Regions from separate parts of the Homo sapiens genome. Here region 2 is linked to region 1. A link means that fine-mapping ties the variant in region 1 to the plasma level of a protein whose gene starts in the linked region. Region 1 holds a variant in brackets. A gene starts in the other region. All regions are shown on their reverse strands. Region 1 overlaps ATRX (ATRX chromatin remodeler). Region 2 holds the start of CLSTN3 (calsyntenin 3).

What was found. PIP is the posterior inclusion probability: the model's chance that the variant is causal. Protein levels are from antibody-based Olink assays in UK Biobank. Linkage for the fine-mapping came from a reference panel and not from the study's own genotypes, which makes the PIPs less certain.
Region 2: CLSTN3 starts here. The variant in region 1 is fine-mapped to the plasma level of the CLSTN3 protein (UK Biobank, PIP above 0.99).

The regions. Positions count from the first base shown.
Region 1 is chrX:77,671,514-77,679,513 of GRCh38, reverse strand. ATRX (ATRX chromatin remodeler) reads left to right here. Exons shown (of 35, transcript NM_000489.6): 10 at 3,216-3,288. Among named protein-coding and RNA genes, the nearest start is that of ATRX, 110 kb to the left of the region's middle. The variant G/A (reference allele first, on the strand shown) is at 4,431.
Region 2 is chr12:7,122,976-7,131,499 of GRCh38, reverse strand. CLSTN3 (calsyntenin 3) reads right to left here and starts at 1,129. Exons shown (of 18, transcript NM_014718.4): 1 at 788-1,129. The coding sequence starts at 851. RBP5 (retinol binding protein 5) reads left to right here and starts at 2,611. Exons shown (of 4, transcript NM_031491.4): 1 at 2,611-2,797; 2 at 3,082-3,260; 3 at 6,770-6,871; 4 at 7,326-7,814. The coding sequence starts at 2,725. The coding sequence ends at 7,379. RefSeq lists silencers at 113-182, 1,273-1,372 and an enhancer at 330-831.

The DNA.
Region 1 (8,000 bases):
TGGCAAATACTCAATTGATGCATCTCTTGATAATTACTTATCTCAGCACTGATCTAGATCACTGTGTTCCATTTTGATTTATTTAACTTTGATCTGAAGGACAAATAGGCTGATGGGGAGTAAACTTTTTCTCAGGTGTGTATCAAGAGAAACTTTGAGAATTCGTCACTTCAGCAAATTCCAATCCTTCAACTGCTTGGTGAAATAAGCCTTGTTGAGATTTTCTTTACCCTGGATATTTTTGGGGGCTAAGCTGATTATTTGGGATGAAATAAGAAAGAAGATAAATTTGTTAGGGAATTTAACCTGTGAAAAATTGGGCCTTGTCAATAGAAACAAGTAGAATAGAATATGAGTGCCTTGAAAATAAGCGCTGTAAAAAGTTCTGTTTTTAAAGATAAGTTTGCGTGTGAGCCAGTGTTATGATATTCCTTCAGAATTTACTTACATGCTTATGTAAGCATGCTGAATTTATGTACTCCTCTGTCTAACTTAATTTTAGGTCACAGTTTTAGAAGGTTAAAAGAAAAACCCTGCCCCCTATTGAGTTTAGAGGATTCCAGTTTATTCGCAGTATTTGGGTATCATATTACAGCTACAGTATTTTCCTAGAAATTGGGGCTTGGTAATGGCATGAATAACCAAGATGAAGAACATGGTCCTAGGAGATTGCAGTTTAATGCAAGACAGACATAGAGAAATCATTAAAAAAAGTAACAGAAGAAAGATATAAAACTAGAATGGGGCCTGTAATCCCAGCACTTTGGGAGGCCAAGGTGGGTGGATTATCTGAGGTCAGTAGTTCAAAACCAGCCTGGCCAACATGGTGAAACCCCATCTCTACTAAAAATACAAAAAAATTAGCCAGGTGTAGTGGCGCACACCTGTAATCCCAGCTACTTGGGAGGCTGAGGCAGGAGAATCGCTTGAACCCAGGAGATGGAGATTGCAGTGAGCCACGATCGCGCCACTGCACTTGAGCCTGGGCGACAGAGCGAGACTCCGTCTCAAAACAGAAACAGCAACAAACACAACAAACTATAATGGGGCTACACAATAAATGGCAAGTGAACTACTTAAATATTTGGGGAAATATTTAGAAGAATAGTTGGCATTTGAACTTCAAAGGATAGGTCAAATTTTGAAAGGTGTAGTAAAGAGGGAGTGACAGTACTGTTACTAATTATATTTCATTTGAAGATTGGTCTGTTTGAATGAGATATTTATTGTGAGTTTGCTGGGATATTATGAAATCTCTTCTCTCTCTCTGTCTGTCTCTTTTTTTTTTTTTTGAGTTGAAGTCTCACTCTGCCACCCAGGCTGGAGTGCAGTGGTGCAATCTCGGCTCACTGCAATCCCTGCTCACTGCAACCTCTGCCTTCCGGGTTCAAGCGATTCTCATGCCTCAGGCTCCTGGGTAGCTGAGATTACAGGTGCATGCCACCACATTGGCTAATTTTTGTATTTTCAGTAGAGACAGGGTTTCTCCATGTTGGCCAGGCTGGCCTCGAGCTCCTGACCTCAAGTGATCCGCCTGCCTCAGCCTCTCAAAATGCTGGCATTACAAGCTTGAGCCACCACGCCTGGCCTTATTTAGTGTATTTCTATCCTGAGCCTGTAGGTGTCTGTTTCCTTTATAGATTTTTTCCTCCATTTCCCTTCAACATTTTATTGTGAAAAACATTTAAGTATACACCAAAGCATCTACCATTAATATTATACTGTATTTTCTTGATAACATATCTATATATCCTTCTGTCTATCCATCAGTATATCTTTTTTTTGCCTTTTTAGCTTTTTATTTTGCATAATTATAAATCCACAGAAATTTGTAAAAAAAAAAAAAAATACAGGGAGGTCTCAGATAACCTTTACTTAGTTTCCCTCAAGGGTAATATCTTGTAACTCTAGTACAGTGTCAAAACCAGAAAACTGAAGATTTATTCAGATTTCACCAGTTTCACATGCACTCATTTGTGTGTGTATAAGTATAGTTCAGTGCAGTTGTACCACGTGTGTATCTTTGTATAATCACCACCACAACCGATATATCAAACCAGTTCCATTATCACAAGGCTCCCTTGTGATACTGCTGTCCTTACCTCCATTCCTGACATCTGGCAACTAGTAATCTGTTCTTTATCACTGTAATTTTGCTATTTTGAAATGGAATCATGAAGTATATAACCTTTTGAGATTGGCTTTTTTCACTTAGTATAATACCCTTAAAATCTTTGATGCATTTCAGATTAAACGGTAGACATCAGCATACTTCTCCTGAAACACTTAAGCATGCATAGTATTAACCTACAGTTTAATATTTCAGTTTTTCTTTTGAAGTAAAATTTATATAGAATGAAATGCCCAAATCTTAACCTCTTTAGATTTTTTTTTTTTTTTTGAGAGAGTTGTTACCCAGGCTGGAGTGCCGTGGTGCGATCTTGGCTTACTGAAACCTCCGCCTCCCAGGTTCAAGTGATTCTCCTGCCTCAGCCTCCCTAGTAGCTGGGATTACAGGCACACACCACCATGGCTGGTTAATTTTTGTGTTTTTAGTAGAGACGGGATTTTGCCATGTTGGCCAGGCTGGTCTGGAACTCCTGACCTCAGGTGATCCGCTTGCCTTGGCTTCCCAAAGTGCTGGGATTACAGGCGTGCGCCACCTCACCCGGCCCTCTTTAGATTTTTAATCAAAATATAGAAATGCAGCTTTTTATAAGAAAATAAGTTTTACTGTACTGAACTGTATCTCTGGGTAACTCAGGTCACAAATACCATACACATTCAACTGCATTTTAAAATTACTTGCTACTACCAAAATATTAATACTGTTTTTGCTATTCCTCGAAGATACAGCACCAGTTAACGTCAAAATTAAAATGGACCAGTACGAAGGTTATTGTGGCAAGAAACTTATGCTAATATGATGGCTGTTGATACAGAATTGTTACTGAGAAGGGTGGACTTTAAAAGCCTTGTGCCCTGGGAAGGAACTCTGAAATATATAAGGTCCAGCTATTTATCATTTTACTGCTGGCACTTCACAAATAACCTGTTATGTTTTCTATAAGAATGCTTTTTACTCATATTTTGGAGTCCAGAGTTTAGACCCCACTTAGTTTGCTTTAAAGTTTTTGGCTTTCAGTTTTATTTTACATGGTTTTAATTATATAGCTTATTTAAAGCTAATTTTAAGTACACTTTTTTCCCTCAAGGAGATGAAGCCTTATCTAAATCAGTGCCTGTCACAGTGGATGATGATGATGACGACAATGATCCTGAGAATAGGTATGATTCCATCTGTAAGGACTTTAAAAAGATTATAACACACCCTAGGCATGGGCACAAACAGCAGCAACGGAACAGCAAGCAGGTTGTAAAAACCAGGAGTGCCTGCCTTAGAAAGACTCGCTCACAGTCTTCCTGCAAGTTTGAAAGAAAGGCCAGAAAATGGGCTAAAACTCAGAAACCTTAAGAGAAAGTAATATCATTATTTACACACCTAGCATAGGGTGTGTTATAAATACAGAACTGTCAATTTTATGTTGCTATGTAAACTGCAGTAATTTTTTTGGAATAATTTATTTTGACAGATTATTGATGAAAGTAAATCATATCTCAGTAAATTGGTAACAACAGACATCTCCTCTATATTTGACTATTGTTAATTGCCATCCAATATGGTGGTCCTATTTATTAAGGCCTGTTGAGAAGAAACAAAAAGAGAGATTACTCAGATATTTAAGATTAAGAAATTGCTTTCAAAATAAGTGTCAGTTTACAAGGTATCTAGACTGAGTTAGAGTTTAACCAGTTTTCAAATAAAATAGAAATACACGGTATGAGAGCATTTACTTTAATAAGACTTAATAGGTTTAAATGTCAACAGTGTAGCCTATACAGATATACTTAAGTAAGGGGTGGCTGGGTGAAGAAAAAAAAAGACACTATCAGTGTAGTGAAGAATAAGGAAAACAACAGTATTAAAGACTATAGCTATAATGTTTCAACATAACTTTTAAACACTTCCTGGACAATAGCATACCCCATGCTCATAATCTTCAACAAGAAGACAGCATGGTATAGTGCATGGAATTTTGGAATAATGGGCATAAGGGTATCTGATTTCTAACATTTTTAACAACTGTCTGTGTCATCATGGGCAAGTGACTTTACTTTTTGTCAAAAATTTACTATATTTAAGAAGAAAAAGTTGGGCGAAATTTTCTGTAATTCTAGTACCAAAAAATCCATGATAGATTTGAGATGATTTCATTAAAGAGCACTACATTAACCATTCATTTATTCCTAATAGTAAGTTCTAACATTAAGAAAACATAAAAATATACATGTAATTTTCTGTCATAATTTTGTAAGAAATTAACTGACTTAGTAAATGCCCTGGGTTCAGCTGTTAGTTTCGCTCTTTT[G/A]TATCTTGCTGATGCTGTTAGGTTTCTCTGTTTCAAAGGTCAGCATTCTGCTAATTAACAGAAGAATGTTTTTATTAAGGTGAATGAACAGTTTTATTTTACAGTTTTGAATAGAGCTTAATTGTGGACACAAATATTCAGATTCTGCTTGCCTACTTTTTTAAATTAAAAAATGTATATCCATTTATTTTATGGGATAGGTGGTAGGTTCCAGAATGGAGTGATAAGGGCATACAATTTATTCATCAGGGATTTTACATTATATCATCACAGCCAGATACTGAAAGCATTTAAAATTTTACTCTTTTTTAAGATGCTTTAATTTTTCTTCATTTATATTTGCTATTTGATTTTCTATACATCATGAGGCCTCAGATGTTACTCAAAGGCTAATAATGTTTTAAACATTCTATATCTTAATTTAACTGTGAATGATTTACTTTAATTTCATATTTAACCACCAAATAAGAGTGTTGTTAAGGTATAATTTTTTTGTGTGTGTTAGAGCTTGTCAAAATATAAATATCATTTTCAACTTTTAAGTTACCTGATCGTATCTCTCTGTAACTGGCAAGTATTTTATTGGAAAGTATCTTTAATTCCACCTTGAATTTGTGATTAAAAAATACAACCCTGTTGAGTACTTTTGAGAAGAATTGAATTTTATCTTGAGCATGTCTTTCTATACTCAGTTTAATTTGTTTTTATAAAATATACAATTTATTAACTTGTTTAATATTCACTATACCAAAGAGGTATCTAATACCCATGGGTTATGTAGTCATGATGGGGATACAAATACTTTCTTGCACTATTTTAGTATAGATTATATATTTGAGCATATTTGAATATGCACTAAGCAACTTAAAAAATTCATTTGCAGATCACGATTAAGTCTTAGAATTATTTTTCTAACTTCCTAATTTTTGAGTAGGTTGTATTTTGGTAGACAGCATATTGTAATTGTATGTAAATTTGTACACAATTGTGTGTAAATTGTGTATAAATCTTATATGCTTTGTCTTTTTAGCAGTATTGTAATACATTTTCAGTGTTGGTGTTTATGAAGCGATAGTGTATTATTGCAAATGGTTAACTATTTGGATGCAATAAATTTTTGTAAACCTTTTTTCTTGTTCAAGCATTTAATTTTAATAATAATGTTACTTTTTTATATCATGAGAGTTGACATAATTTGTTATTAAAATATAGAGGCTAGTTTGTAGCCAAAGAAGTTTTGAAATTTTGAAATTTAGGACGTAAATACTTTTAATTCCCCTAACATATATACTTATATATATTTGTGTGAAAGTTTTACAACAGATTTAACTACTATTTACTTTTTCTGTTTTAAAGCTATGATGGCTTTTGGGGGCATTTAAAAAACTTAGTCATATCCTGAATATTTTAGTAAATGTGAATACATTTCTGTTTTAGCATGCTATTATGTAGCGTCACTCATATTTGAAAGTAAATGTATAATATTATGAGACAGTGGTCTAACCTATAAATTAATTTCTATTTAATTGGATTTACTTAATGAACAAGGACAGAATATTATAGATTGATCAACACTTGTATGTTTCTGGTTTAGCTTTTTATAAAAAAAAGTAGACTAATCATATATTTTGAATTTTATATAACTGAAAATTTAGAGCTTAGGCTTTATGTAGTTTCTCAATGGCAGAATAATAATACCAAATAGGTTGTCAGGTTTTCACATTTATACACGTAATTTTAAAGTAATATACTTGAAAGTGCCATTAGGGTAGGGTTTCATTGGCCTTTCAAATACCTGTTAGTTGGATTTTAAATTGGTTCTTTCTCTGAAAAGACATCTATTCATATAATTTATTTCAATTCAATAATTAGCCTGGCATTGAAAATACACCATAATTCCTTTATATGTTCAATATAACTGGGGATATTTTGACCAAACATTTTCTAATAATATCATATATTTTAATTTAATATCTGTACTGGGAATGAGCCTCAAGTAATACGATAGTAGTGTGTTCAAGTTTTAACAGTATTAGTTTTGAGGATCATTAAACTAGGCTTGTCTTTAGAGATTGCATACTGAACAATCACTGAAGAGACCATTTATCCCAAAAAAGAATTATCTTTTGAAATTTCTTTATTCGCTTATTTTGCAGGATGTGAGAAATATTTACAATTGAGCTTTTGAGAGCAAAAGACCAAAGTGCTAGGTTTTTCTAAATAAGCATTCTTTCTCCCTGACAACTTTGACTAAGAGCTGAGATTTCTACATGGATGTCTGCTCCCCTAACAAACACATTTACTTTATTGTTGAAATGTGCTTAATTGGGTCTAGTAATACTCCACATTTTTTCTCATAATTTCTCTGTGGGTGCGACTAAATGCTTTTTTTTTCATAGAAGCGAAATTTGATGTGGAGATTGCTAAAAAAAATTGTCCCATTGTTATATTTAATTATATTGGGACTAGACCATAGCATTTTAAATTTCCAACTGTTGTTGTATCATTTGATGATAATTTTGTGTTTCAAACTAGAAAATATGCTAATGATTTTTTTTTTTCCTACTGGCTTGGTGTGGGTATGCTGTTGATGACGGCTCTGTATTGTTAATCCAGCATATTTTCGGAGGAAACTAATGATTTCTGGATGTTATTTATGCCTAAGAAGATATTTAATGATTGTTTACCTGATTTCAGCACAATTAATGGCATGGATGTATCACAAGTCCCTTAATCGTTTGATGTTCACTTTGCTTTCATTTTAAACACTTTTTCAAATGTCTGTCTCCTACACATGTTGTCTATTCTCTATGCAAATTTGCTAAATTTGGAATAATTTTTTTCTGTGATTTTTTTTTTGTGGTAGTTCTGTTTCGTTAGCAAAACTGCTTTGATTCTCCTTTATTGTACTTGAAAAACAAAGGTGGCGTTTTAAATTAAGTATTTTACTTGTTTTTCCATTTGAGTAAGGGTTTTAAATATCTAGCAATTTTACGGTAATTTTTTTTTCAATTTCCTTTGTCTGTATAGCACAGGTAAGTATTGCAAGTCATTTAAGTATAACACAGGTGTCCAGCCAGTAGATAGGATCTACTTGTAGATATCTGAACTGGCTGTAGTTGTTACTGGCTTTCTTTTTTCTACTAGAATTCCCAGTCAGGAAAGACATATGATGTGTAGTGGTGACCTTTGTCCTTCTATGGTCAAGATTTAAACATTATAACCAGTGTTTCTTTCTTGTTCTCTGTTCTTTGGTGATATTGGGACTTTCAGAAAATAAGAAATAGGTCTTCCTCAAAAAAGAAAAAAAAGAAAAAGAGAAAAAGGAAGAGTTTGGATTTCTAGTGTTAGGAAAAGTGATTCATTTTTCTGACTTAATATCCTTTGTCTTTAACTTTGAAATTTCAAAATAAAATTTTGAAATTTGAGATGAGTAAATTCTGTGTTTTCATTTTTCAAGTATAAAAATATTGAACTAGTTATTTAATATGATCAAATTTCCCATATTAATTTGAATATATTTTTTCTTGTTAAAATGCCTCTAAAACTGGTTTAGATTTTTGTATAAAA
Region 2 (8,524 bases), not on the chromosome of region 1:
TTACCCTTTTCCATCCCCTCCTTACCCCCTCCCACGCCTCATCTCCGGTCTTCTCCTTCTCAGCTTTCCCTCTCATACTCATTTAGCGCCCCCCACACACCCACTTCTGCCCTTTCCTGCCAGTCTCCATCCGTTTCCACCTACCTGAGCCCTCTGCCCGCAAGCCCTCCCTCCCGTCCTCCCTCTCCGTCTGTCCGACAGCCCCGCCCAGCTGAATGTATCCGCTGTCTGCCAGAGAGGGCAGCTCTGGTAACCCACAGCCCAGCTGATGCAGGCAAAAGGGTCTGAATGCAGAGGCACACGCAAAAAACATACGTGCTCCGAATTGCTGAACTGCAGCAAATACTTTCTCCCCAGGATGGGATGGAGGCGAAGCAGATGGATCTGCCACACACCCTTAGCATGCGCCAGTGAAAGGGAGAGCCGCGGGGAGAGGCCTATCACCGGCTCGGGGGCAGTCCTTCCCAGACCCGAGGTAGCCACCAGCGTGTAGAAATTAGGGGAAGGGGAGAATAGAGACCCCAGGACGGGAATGGAGACCAAATGGGAGCAAGATGACCAGCAAGAGAAACGCATGGGTAGAGATGGACCAGAAAGGAAGATGTAGCTGGGGGAAGAGAAAGAGAGGAGACGGAGCAGGTCTGAGAACGGATGGGAAGGAGGGTGATCAGAAGAGGGCCAGACACCTGTCAGGTGCCAGGGAGCCTCGACACCTCCTTCCCACCCCCACCCCGCACGGCGCTGCCCGACGCCCCTCTTTCGGTACCCCCACCCCCACCTCACTCACCTTTGTTACAGGAGCAGGACGCGAGCAGAGAGGCCAGCAGAAGGGGCAGCAGCAGGAGGGTCATGGTGCGGCGTGGGGCAGGGCAGGGCCAGGCGTTTGCCTCCCCTGGGAGCCTCCAGCCTGCGGATTCCACCTTGCGGGAGGGATACAGGGGGTCTCCAAGGAGCGGGGTACAGCAGGGCAGGGACGGAAAGGAGCCTGCCGCCCACACTAGTCCATAAAGCGGGCCTGGGCAGATCCCAATCTGGGTAGCTGAGGCGGTGGACTTGCAGCGGCTTCCCGTTTCCCCCAGCCCAGCGTCCTCACTCTCTCACTCCCACCCCAACCCCGCTACTGCAGGATGACGTCAGCACAGCCGGGCAACGATTGATGGGGCCGCCGGCCAATCAGGTGACTGGGAGGGGGGGGGACCAGGTGCTGCAGCGGGGGAGGGAGCCAATGAGACTGGGGCGTCGGGGCTGGAGAGTTTCAAGGCTCCTTCCCCTGGCTGCAATTTTGGGGGAGCCGAGGAACTGCGGGGGCTGGGGAGGAAGCTGGAGAGCCACGGAGGGGGTGGGAAAGAAGAGGGACGTGGGGAGAAAGAAGCCAGAAGCCAGGGGGTGGGGAAGAGAGACGTCAGCGGGACCTGAGGGCGGCCAGGAGGGGTGGCACCGCGTCACCCCGCCCCCCAACTCTGCCATAACCTGTTTCCACAGCCCCTTCCATCCACAGATCCGTGCTGCGTGCCCTCTGGGAAGGGTGAAGTAAAACCCTCAGTCTGAGCCTGAGAAATCCTGGCATTTGTAGCCCAGGGCTGCGAGGAAGCCACAGGGCGGTCCGCAGGGCGGTATCGAGGCTCTGGGACCCAAGGAGGGGCAGGACGTCGTGCACCCCTCGCGCACGCACCTGTCGGGACCGGCCGCCTCCTCCTGCCTACCTGTCCTGCCTCCTTCGCCCCGAATTTCACCTTAAACCATGATGAACCAAGCCCAGTGGATTCTGAAGCCCGGGACGATGGCAGGTTCGAGAGAGAATTGGGCAGCTGGGGGCGGGGCACAATATTATTTAGGCGCCTCCACCCCACCTTCACAGAAATACATCTGGAAAGCATGGGCTGTCCTAGGGCTGGGGACTGGGGGTTACGGTCTCATCGATGACTCAGAGGGAGAGAAAACCCCCTGGGTCCCAAGCCAAAAAGAATAAAATTCTCCAGAATAGCCAACAAACTCCTCTCAGGCTGTCTGTTCCGGACTTTGAACTCAGCACCCCTCGGGCTCCACCTCCCTCCTAATGGCTCTTTAGGACCAAGAGTCTGGAATGCCACTTTGGGGTCCCAGTTGAGCACACTACCTGAGGGAGCTCTGAGAGCCAGGCCTACAGGGTGCTCTTCATGGTGGCAGCTGGCCATCCTCACCCCCTCCCCTCACATCTTCCAACATCACTCAGTCCCAGGATCTCAGGATATTGTTGGAACTCATCTCCACCTCACACAGCCAGACCAGCCTCAGGTGTCTCCCAGGAAAGACTGCCCCTCAGGCCCTGGGACGGTTCCCAAGCCTGCCAGAAATGAGGTGGAGGCCAACACTGACCTTTGGATGGCTGAGTTTTGGATGACTGACAGCCCCAGATCCTGCTCCAGGTTCCTTCCTCAGGAAGGATCCTGCTCCAGGTTCCTTCCTCAGGAAAAGCCAAGGTCAGGCGCAACTTTGCCAAATCCCTGCCCCTCCTTCAGGCTGGAGACACCACCCCCAAACTCACCATGCGGGGAGGGAAGAAGTCTGGTAGGGACTCTTATTGCAACAGGGCCCCAGCCTTATAAAAAGCCCTGGTAACCCGGCCATTACACATCCTGTCTCTGTGTGTGGAGCTGGCTGGAATCTCTCAGCCTCACCTGCCAGACAACACCCCCTCCTTCCTCACCCTGTCTCCTGCATTCTCCTGAAACCTTCATCCACACAATGCCTCCCAACCTCACTGGCTACTACCGCTTTGTCTCGCAGAAGAACATGGAGGACTACCTGCAAGCCCTAAGTAATGGCCTCGCCCTCCCAGACCCCTGTCACTCCCTTTCTCCCCTCTTCCTTCCTGCTTCTTGGTCCCATGGAGAAGAGGGAATGCCCGGGGTTGGACACTGTGGAAAGGCTCAGGCGGCTGGCACCAGACCTGGGATCCATTTCTAACCAGGCATTGGTAGGAGGGGGTGAATCCACAGTCCCAGACCCAAAGAAGGGAAACTCACAGCCCTGAGGGGCTGCTGCAGGCAGAGGAGCTCCTGGCTGGCTAGCAGCACCCCTACTAACAGGCAGCCCCCACAGACATCAGCTTGGCTGTGCGGAAGATCGCGCTGCTGCTGAAGCCGGACAAGGAGATCGAACACCAGGGCAACCACATGACGGTGAGGACGCTCAGCACCTTCCGAAACTACACTGTGCAGTTTGATGTGGGAGTGGAGTTTGAGGAGGACCTCAGGAGCGTGGACGGACGAAAATGCCAGGTACATTTCCCCTGGCTGGGCGGTGGCCGGAAGGAGGCATCACAGGAGACTCCTAACAACATGGGGCAAAACAAAGTGACCTTCCCCAGCCAGAGCAGCGGGGAGGAGGGGAATGGTCACCACAGCAGGGAATGCAGTCCCCAGGATACCAGTCTCCAGAACTAACAGGTCCTGGTGCTCCCTGTCTCTCTCCCACTTCTTCCCTGCCCCCTCTTATCACCAGCCCAAAGGGCAAAGAACAGGCCAACCCAGACCGAAGAGCAAACATTTGCCCACCCTCCAGCCTGTGACACTGTTGGTCACCCAGAGTCCCTTTTACTTTAGCATCAATAACTTCACTCTCCTGCATTTCTTTCTACTTCTTACATATTCCTTCTTAGCCTCCTTTGCAGATCCTAGTCCTCCTATTAATCCTTTAAACTGGAGTTTTCTCCGCAGAGTTTTGTTCTTAATGTCTTCTCCCTTTTGTCTGCCCACTATCCATAGGCTAAATCATCTACACCCATGCCTTCTGCTTCCATCTATAGGCTGCCCTTGGCATGAATTCTCCAGCCAGAGCCATCTCCTGAGCTCCAGGGCAATGTTTTCAACTGCCTACAAAATACAGTTGGCCCTCCATATTCATGGGTTCTGCATCCACAGCTTCAGCAAACTGCAAATGGAAAAATATTTGGGAAAAATAAAAATAAAAAATAACAATACAAAATGATACAAATAAAAAACAATACAGTATAGCAACTATTTACAGAGCATGTACATTGCATTAGGTATTATAAGTAATCTAGAGATGATTTAAAGCATATGGGAAAAGGCTGGGCGTGGTGGCTCACACCCATAATCCCAAGACTTTGGGAGGCTGAGGCAGGCAGATCACTTGAGGCCAGGAGTTCAAGACCAGCCTGGCCAACATGGTGAAACCTCATCTCTACTAAAAATACATAAATTAGGCCAGGTGCAGTGGCTCACACCTGTAATCCCAGTACTTTGGGAGGCCAAGGCGGGCGGATCACCTGAGGTCAAGAGTTCGAGACCAGCCTGACCAACATGGAGAAACCCCATCTCTACTAAAAATACAAAAAATTAGGCAGGCATGGTGGCGCATGCCTGTAATCCCAGCTACTCAGGAGGCTGAGGCAGAAGAATCACTTGAACCTGGGAGGCAGAGGTTGCAGTGAGCCAAGATCGCACCACTGCACTCCAGCCTGGGCAACAAGAGCGAAATTCTATCTCAAAAAAAAAAAAAAAAAAAAATACAAAAGTACAAAAATTAGCCGGGCATGGTGGCGCATGCCTGTAATCCCAGCTACTTGGGAGGCTGAGGCAGGAGAATTACTTGAACCCGGGAGCCAGAGGTTGCAGTGAGCCAAGATCATGCCATTGCATTCTAGTCTGGGTGACAGAGCAAGACTCTGTATCAAAATGATAATAATAAAGTACACAGGGGGATGTATGTAGTTTCTCTACAGATACTAAGCCATTTTATTCAGCAGATTTAGTGAGGTGGGGGTCCTGGAACCAATTTCCATTTGAATGCCAAGGTCAAATTCAAATTCACTGTCTTCCTATCCAAACCTACCCCACTTTTATATCTACTCTCTCCACTAATGGCAATAACCAGCCAGGCCAGAGACCTGGGAGTCATGGTCAATATCTCTTGTTTCCTTACCTCTAGGCTCCCAGCACACACACACACACACACACACACACACACACACACACACACACACACCACCACCACCACCACCACCACATCTAATCGGCCAAGAAATCTTTGTAGCTTTTCTGCATTACCCAGTATAGCAGCTGCTAACTTCAGATGGCCGTTGAATACTTGAAATATAACTAGTCCAAATCTAGATGCTGTAAGTGGACTTTCAGACAATGCCAAATAAAAAGAAGCATTTCGGAAATGTTTATATTGGCTGCATGCCGAAATAATAATATTTTGAATATTTTTGGTTAACTAAAATATATTATTTAAATTAATTTCCCCTATTTCTCTTTACTTTTCTAATATGGCTCCTGACCCATTTTATTTCTGTTGAGCATCACTCTTCTAAATGGCTCTCCTGTGTTCCCTCCTAACCTTTCTCTATCACCACCCTAATTCAGGCCTTCATTTCCTGGTGCCTGAAATTGCTTTTTTGTGTTTTTGTGTTTTTTTTTTTTTGGTAGAGGTGGGGTCTCACTGTGTTGCCCAGGCTGGTCTCAAACTCTTGACTTCAAGTGATTCTCCCGCCTCAGCCTCCCAAATGCTGAGATTACGGGCCTAAGCCACTGCACCCAGCTGGTTCTCACGCTTAACCCTCCTCTAATCTGCATGCTGTAGCCACAGGGTCTACTTAAAACATAAATGTGATCATGTCACTCTCTGACTTACACCCTTTCAGTGATGATCTATTACATTACATCATCTGTTACACTTAACTCAGCATACAAGGGTCTCTGTGAATCAACTCTTCAATTGCCTCCACCACATATACTCTAGGTTAGAGCCCTTCAGAACTAATTGCCTTTCTCTTTTACCGCTATTTCTAGCTGTTTCTTTCCTTGCTAGAAATTTCCCATTCTCTCCAATCTAATTAACTCCCAACTTCCTTAAAGATTTCACTCTGCCCGCCCCACTGCCATCCCTCACTCTTGCCTGGTGTCACAGTTACCTATTTACTGATCCTCTATCTCTTCAAGACTCTGAGCTCCTTGTTTGGGGCCTATCCTAAAGGAGAACTCAATAAAGGTTGATTGGAATGCTCAGGCCCAGAGGGGCTGACCCTTTATTTCTAAGGATACTTCAGCTGTTCTTGAAACCGAGAAAGAGGAGAAATGAGATTACCTGGTAGGATTCCCAACCAATCTCTCTTTTTTCTCAAAAGTCCCTCTAGGTCAGCCAGAAGTATCCAGAGGAAAAAGTCTCCATTCTTCATAAATGCCCTCCCCAATTTCACCTCTACTTATCCTGCTACCACCCCTGCTCTCCCCTAAAGGTCACTGTAGACAACTTTGGGCCCCCCTCGGTGACCTTTAGGAGTGGAAAGCTGGGTGTGATGGTTCATGCCTATAGTCACAGCACTTTAGGAAGCGGTGGCGGGCGGATCACTTGAGCTCAGGAGTTTAAGTCCAGCCTGGCCAACATGGAGAAACCCTGTCTCTACTAAAAATACAAAAATTAACCCGGTATGTTGGTGCACGCCTGTAATCCCAGCTACTCTGGTAGCTGAGGCATGAGATTCACTTGAACCCAGGAGGCAGAGGTTGCAGTGAGCCGAGATCCTGCCACTGCACTCCAGCCTGGGTGACAGAGCAAGAACTTGTCTCAAAAAAACACAAAAAACAAAGAGTAGGGTGGAAAGGGAGTCCTGCTGAATCAGAGCAGCTCCCTCGCTCAGTGGAGGGGCTGCAGCAGACAGTATCTGCTGTGGAGTAAAAGGGGGAGCCCATTCAGAGTGAGATGGGAAGCATTTTGAGTGTCCTGCCTCCTAATCTTTCTTTACTCCCTCTTTCCCCTATAGACCATAGTAACCTGGGAGGAGGAGCACCTGGTGTGTGTGCAGAAAGGGGAGGTCCCCAACCGGGGCTGGAGACACTGGCTGGAGGGAGAGATGCTGTATCTGGTAAATGGGGTGGGGGCTGGGTGTCTGGGAGAAGGGCCTCCAGCTATAAGGCATCCCCTTGTCCAAACCAGATAGGTCCACCACTCTTCCCCCAGCCCAGCCCCAATCCCTATCCAAGGAATTGACCAGGGAGGGAAAGCAAAAGCACTGGGAGGAGTGGGGAGAGGAAGAAACAGAGTGGCCAAGGTGGGCCCTGGCTACGAGTCGGATGAATGCCCATAAATCATCACTGGCGAGATGGAGGCTTCAGCCACTCACATCCCCTGACCCAGCCACCTTCCTTCCTGAGGGGTGGAAAGTTGAGGATGTGGAATAATGATACAATTGCCCATACATCAAACACTCAAGCTGCTGTATCCGGAAGGAGTAAATGGAGGTCAAGGACCTTGAGAAAGGGGCTCTGGCTGGCAAACGCCCTCTTTCTCTCTCCCCCTCACTTCCCCTCTCTCCCCAGGAACTGACTGCAAGGGATGCAGTGTGCGAGCAGGTCTTCAGGAAGGTCAGATAGCCGGAGAGGAGCCAAGATCCCTCCAGACAGCACCAGCTCACAGACGCTCTTGTTGTGCCCCCTTCAAGCCCAGATTGTGCCAGGTCAGCTGTCCCTTCCTCTGGCCACCTTTCCTCCCTCTGGGTCCCTCCTCACCCCTCCCCGTGTTAATCTGTAACTTGCAGCCCCCAGGCCAAAGTCCTTTCTCACACTCCACTGCCCAATAGTGACCTCACTTCCAGGTCAAGGTCTGGCGTCCCAAATGAAAGAAGCAGGCAAAGGGAAGGAGCCCCTGAGAACAACCAATCTCCGCTCTCTCCTGTCCATTTGACCTCTTCTTTTCCTTCTAAGAAAGAACTAAGCTTTGGGCATTTGGCGATTAGTGAAAATTCTATCCTGATGGACTTCTGGAAAACTGTGACTGGGGTTCAAGAGTTTAAACAGGGGCTACTGGCAGAGTCTTTTTGTCCATTTCTTTGTCCTTATCCTTGAGAAAGTCTCATGTGCTCAACAAAACCAGGCCCAAGACACAGCCCCCCACACACAGGGTTCAACGGACTCCACGGTTCTGACATCTGAAGGCATCTGGCCATTTGATACTTCCATCCTATGTGTTGGGAATGAGGGATGGAATGGGGTAAGACCTTTGTCCAGTGCTTGGGGAGGCGGGGAGCTTCTAAATGGTGACCTGTCCTCCGTGTCTGCTTTGGGAAGGGCAAGCAGCAAGAAAGCCAGAAAAAGCTGAAAAAGGAAGTAGACGGAGGATGTGAGGTCAAGGAATAAAAGACAGTAATACAGGGGTGTGAAGGCATAGGAGGGAGAAGCCCAGCAGTCCTGGCTATAGGGACCCTCTGCTCAAAGGCCAGCAAGGCTGGAGACCAGAGATAAAGAGGAGAGCTGAGGACAGCAAGGGTCCCAGAGTTGCTGCCTTGGAAAACAGCCCAGAAGGGTGGAGCTGGCTCAGGGTCAAGGCCAGCTCCAGCCTCTGGCCTCCTCTCCACCTCCAGGGGCCTTGGCTCTTTCAGAATAAAAGTCCTAGGGGGCCCAACTATCAGAGTGAAGAGGGCTCAATGTGAGGGTGGGAAAAGAGCCTGGGGGAAGGGTTGAGGGAGTTGGAAAGTCCCTGGCCCTCATCAGATGAAGACTCTTGACCCATCTTCCTGCAA